2 separate regions of the Homo sapiens genome follow, and region 1 is linked to region 2. The links come from fine-mapping of genetic effects on gene expression. Tissue or cell type: whole blood. Region 2 holds a variant in brackets; the other region holds the start of a gene. All regions are shown on one strand. Distances are from middle to middle.

What was found. PIP is the estimated chance that this variant, and not a neighbour inherited with it, causes the effect.
Region 1: SF3A3 starts here. The variant in region 2 is fine-mapped to the expression of SF3A3 in whole blood (TOPMed, PIP 0.96).

Annotation. Positions count from the first base shown.
Region 1 is chr1:37,988,820-37,991,502 of GRCh38, forward strand. It overlaps SF3A3 (splicing factor 3a subunit 3), which reads right to left and starts at 1,203. Exons shown (of 17, transcript NM_006802.4): 1 at 1,051-1,203; 2 at 729-776. The coding sequence starts at 1,146. It also overlaps the pseudogene RNU6-510P. RefSeq lists enhancers at 455-554, 1,255-1,424, 1,816-2,361.
Region 2 is chr1:37,956,558-37,959,240 of GRCh38, forward strand. SF3A3 (splicing factor 3a subunit 3) reads right to left here. Exons shown (of 17, transcript NM_006802.4): 17 at 418-1,706. The coding sequence ends at 1,629. Among named protein-coding and RNA genes, the nearest start is that of INPP5B, 11 kb to the left of the region's middle. The variant T/G (reference allele first, on the strand shown) is at 1,292.

The sequences.
Region 1 (2,683 bases), 32 kb after region 2:
AGTATCCTGGGAGAAAAACACTAACATACGGGGTGTGTTGTGTGTGTGTGTGTGTGTGTGTATATATATATATATATTTTTTTTTTCATTTAAGGGAAGGATTGTAGCTATGCACCTGAGTCATGGACTCTTCATAACTATTGTTTGCACATCCAAGGGATACAGGATGCTGTAAGAATGGGCACGTGTAAGCCGGCCGCGGTGGCTCAAGCCTGTAATCTCAGCACTTTGGGAGGCCGAGGTAGGTGGATCACGAGGTCAGGAGTTCGAGACCAGCCTGACCAACATGTTTAGTAGAAACTCCGTCTCTACTAAAAATACAAAAATTAGCTGAGCGTGGTGGCGAGCGCCTGTAGTCCCAACTACTCCGGAGGCTGAGGCAGGAGAATCGCTTGAACCCAGGAGGCGGAGGTTGCAGTGAGCCGAGACCGCGCCACTGCACTCCAGCCTAGGCAACAGAGCGAGACTCCGTCCAAAAGAAGAAGAAGAAGAAAAAAAAAAAGGGCACCTTTCTGATTAATGAAGAATGCCCAAGAGTTCCCCATTCAGAGAACTGAGGAAGCACCCTCACGTTCGGCAGCCTGTGGACATCTGTCCAGGCAGAGAGCCCGCGACTGGCCAATCCGGTTACCTTTGGCCAGGGACTCATGCTGAGACACCGCACTTCACTTCCCCTCTCTTTTCCCGCCCTCGCCAACCCAAAGAGAGGCAGACAGCTGGGCACTCACATCTTGCATGGCCCGAGTGCGGTGATCAGAATTGATCTGGTCCCGGAGCTGAAAAAACAAACGGTGACACAAACGCCGTTAGTTTGCGTTCTGGAGTAGAAAAGGCCGCCCGAGGGCGGAGCTTACCCGCTCAGCTTTTACCAGCTGAGGCAGAAAGGCCTCTGGGGCTCCGGACCCCGGGAGGAGGTTACCAAGACCGGAGCTCGGAGAGGGAGCCCGGAGGAAGGCAGGGAGGTTCTGAGGGCCAAAGCAAGCTCTCAGAGGTCAAACACGGGATAGAGGCTCGTGCTCCTGCCGCAGCCTCTGCTCAGGCCCCACTCACCGTGGACTTCTTGGTGAGCATCTCTTTAGCCATGACGTCCATGAGCCGTTCCTTCTCCTCATGATAGCGCCGCTGCTGCTCCAGTATTGTCTCCATCTTCCCTTAGTCGCGGCTTCTCAATTCAGACCACCAACACGGCCGGAAGCAACTCCTGCCGCCCAGCGCGCCTGAGTCCCCACGTTGCGCATCAGGCTGCACCAAAGTTCCGCGAGTGCCGGAAGTGCCCCGGGACTTAAGAAAACAGGAGCACCACAAGGAAGGCCAGTCCATGTTATGGAGATGGCAACAGTGCCACCTGCTGGTGGGAGGTGTGGTGGAGCGATGCCGAGAGGTTCGCAGATGCCTCCAGGGGGCATAGGAAAACCCAAGAACCTGAGGTTCAGCGGACGGCTTCCTGCGGCTTGCTGGGGCCGGCTTGGCGGGCAGGTATCCTGTGTGGACTGCGCGAGCAGTTGGAGTGCGGATGGGAGTTGGGAAACCGGAACTTGAGGACGCAGCTTTCAGCATAAATTATGAGAACGTTTTCTCTTTCTCTGGACCTCAGCGTCTTTCTCAGGAAAATGGGAATAGTGGGGTTTTGCTGGTGGTGTTTTTAAAAAAATTCACATGTGAGGCCGGGCGCGGTAGCTCACGCCTGTAATCCCAACACTTTGGGAGGCCGAGGCGGGCGGATCACTTGAGGTCAGAGGTTCGAGACGACCAGGCTGGCTAACATGGTGAAACCCCGTCTCTACTAAAAACAAACAAACAAAAATTAGCCGGGCGTGATGGCAGGCGCCTGTAGTCCCAGCTACTCCGGAGGCTGAGGCAGGAGAATCGCTTGAACCCGGGAAGCAGAGGTTGCCGTCAGCTGAGATCGTGCCACTGCACTCCAGCCTGGGCGACAGAATGAGACTCAGTCTCAAAAAAAAAAAAAAAAAAGAAATTCACGTGTAGAAACGACTTGTCTATCGGCAGCGAATATGTTAAATAAAATACTGTGCATCCAACGAGATCAGGAGATTGAGACCATCCTGTCTAACACGGTGAAACCCCGTCTCTACTAAAACTGCAAAAAATTAGCCGGGCATGGTGGCGCGCGCCTGTAGTCACAGCTACTCGGGAGGCTGAGGCAGGAGAATCACTTGAACCCAGGAGGCAGAGGTTGCAGTGAGCTGAGATCATGCCACTGCATTCCAGCTTGGGCGACAGAGAGAGACTCCGTCTCAAAAAAAAGTAAAATAAAATAAAATAAAATACTGTGCATCCAAGCAGTGGAAGACCAGCTGTGAAATGACATACAGCCTTAAAAAAAATTCTGTCTATATATCTCCACTTGTAGGTAGAGAAATGCAAACATGTCCATGTGTTCATATGTTCACAGCGGCATTATTCATAATAGACAAAAACTGGATGCAGCCCAAGAGTCCATTAACTGGCAAATGGATAAAGTGTGGTATATCTATACAGTACAATGGAACATTATTCTGCAATAAATGAATACTACAATGATGAACCATGAAAGCATCATGCTAAGTGAAAGAAGCTAGACAGAAAAACAACAGTGTATGTCCAGATAAAACGTCCAGAACGGTGTTAAAAGAAAAACACTGGTGCTTGCTATGGCAGCACATATACTAAAATTGGAACCATA
Region 2 (2,683 bases):
TTTTTTTTGAGACGGAGTCTCGCTGTCACCCAGGCTGGAGTGCAGTGGCGTGATCTCGGCTCATGGCAACCTTCGCCTCCTGGGTTCAAGTGATCCTCCTGCCTCAGTCTCCTGAGTACCTGGGACTACAGGTGCATGCCATCACGCCTGGCTAATTTTTGTATTTTTAGTAGAGACAGGGTTTCGCCATGTTGGCCAGGCTGGTCTCCAACTCCTGACCTCAAGTAATTTGCTGCCCTCGGCCTCCCAAAGTGTTTGGATTACAGGCATCAGCTACTGCGCATGGCCTGAGTTGGAATTTTTAAAAGTAGATATATTAGCCAGCCTGCCTCTGCATGGGATGAGTGCGGCACTGGTTCTTGGTAGGTTTTTAGAAAAATAAGATATAAATGTGTAATATAAAGAAAAAGATTAACATTTTTTTAAAAAGTAGATTTATTAAAAAACAGTTGAAGGTCTGAGTGTTGAGAGGCAAATGGGGTCTCTGGGGGATCCTGTCCTGCAGCAGGCCTGACTTTCAGATGACTGTGCTTATAAGGCAGATCAGTGCCTTCCTGGTTGCCTTAGTTCTTTCCATTTCAGACACCACATTTGGATCCTGGGGCAGCTGCTCAACTCTACCCAACTCTACCATGGCTACCTGGGATTGGAGAACATGTGAGTATTAGCTACTTTTACAGTCAAATAGGGATCTTGTAGAAGAAACAGGTAGACAGACCCACCAGTCTCTCATTCTGACCTAGCAAGCTGGTGAAGTCACTGTCGGTCCTAGTTCCCTTGTTTGTTGGGCTGCAGGCCCATTCCAACACAGCCCAACTCCCCCCCCCCCCCCTTTTTTTTTTTTTGAGATGGGGCCTCACTATATCGCCCAGGCTGGTCTCAAACTCCTAGGTTCAAAGGATCTTCTAGCCTCAGTCTCCTGAGTAGCTGGGACTACAGTGCGTGCCACCATGCCTTTTTTTTTTTTTTAATGAGACAGGGTCTCACTATGTTACCTAGGCTAGTCTCAAGCAACCCTCCTGCCTCAGCCTCCCAAGTAGCTGGGACTACAGGCACAAGCCACTGCACCCAGCTCCAACTCCTTTCTTTATGCAAATACAAAAGGCAAACCTTGGTGCGACACTTAGTCCTTAGTAGCAACCCTGGCTCATCCTCCTAGTCTTTCCCTAGTATTTGCATCAATGGCTAACTAAGCTGATGGCAGACCTCATCCTGGGGTAATACTCATTCAGGGAAGCAGCAACAAAGGAGGGTGGGGAAAGAGGTCAGGTCAGATTTACCTAACATGATA[T/G]GTAGCATAATAGGTGCCCATTAAATCTCAGCTACTAGTAAAGTTGGTGAGGAAGAGGTATGGAGGCGTTAAGACCTGAAGCACTGAGTTGGTCCATAACCCTGGGCTTTAGAACAAGGTCTGGTTTTATTTTCTGGCAGAATCTTTTAAAATATAAAACAGATAAAACACATCTCAACCCTGCAATCTGCCAGCATGCCTTGTTTCTACAAGATGCATGCTAGACCATGAGACTACATAGCAAAGGGTCTTTAAGAGGATTTGGTTGGGAGAAATAGAAAAAGCAGATCTTAGGGAAGCCTGGGCTAGCCCAAAAGCTGAGCTACATCCCTGAACACTAGAGCAGTCCTTGTCTTTTCAGATCCTCGTATGTCTTCTTATTCACAACATTCCCACTTGAGTCTTCATATTCTTCCTGAAAAGGAAGGGGTACACTTTGTTAGACAGCTCTCCTAAAAGAAATGTTTGGAACCAATCTCTAAGTACCTGAGCTCATCCTGGCCTGATTCCATGGCATACTCTGGTACACTAAGATTGGCATTCATCTAAGCCTTTCTCAACTGGGGTTCCACAAGAGAATTAAGTCCCACTGCCCCAAAGCAGCCACCGTGTGCAATGAATTAACTTCTCTCGTAGACATCTAGAATGATATCAGTCATGACCCATCATTAGAGTATCTGAGAAAATAGTTTATTTAGCTCTCTATGTTTAAGATGGGGAACCCTGGTTGAGAAAGGCTGACCTACAACAGCAGTTTTCAAATGGTTCCCAAGAATCCCAGGATTCTGCTCAGAGGCCATTGCAGGGGTTGAAAGGGAAGCCAGGAAGTCTGAGCTTCCCCATGTCCAGGGCAATTCTGCTTGATTCTATTTTATATATCAGAGTACTATATTACAAGTGGAAGAGAGTTTTGCTGCCAAAAAGAAAAAAAATACTGAAAACCACTGACTCAAAAAAAGGGAGGCTATTGTCAGTTACTATGGGACTTGGAGTGAGTCAGTACCATTCCTTACATACATGTCATTCTTGATCTCTGAAACCTGCTGCTTGGGATGACCATCATAAGACCAACAAGGACATCTCCCTGTCGCTATGAGAGTATCATCTCTCATTAGATGCTTTCCTCAAAGGAGATCTAATACATGATACAGAGTCTCGGCATTTTAGTCTATAAATCTCCATGGCAGAACATGAGATTGGGTACTCCCACTTGCCATTTCAACTTTTTTTTCTTTTTTTTTTTTTTGTGAGGTAAGTTCTTGCTCTGTCACCCAGGCTGGAGTGCAATGGTGCGATCACAGCTCACTGCACCCTCGACAGCCTGGGCTCAAGCAATCCTCCTGCTTCAGCCTCCTGAACAGCTGGGACCACAGGCATGTGCCACCACTCCCC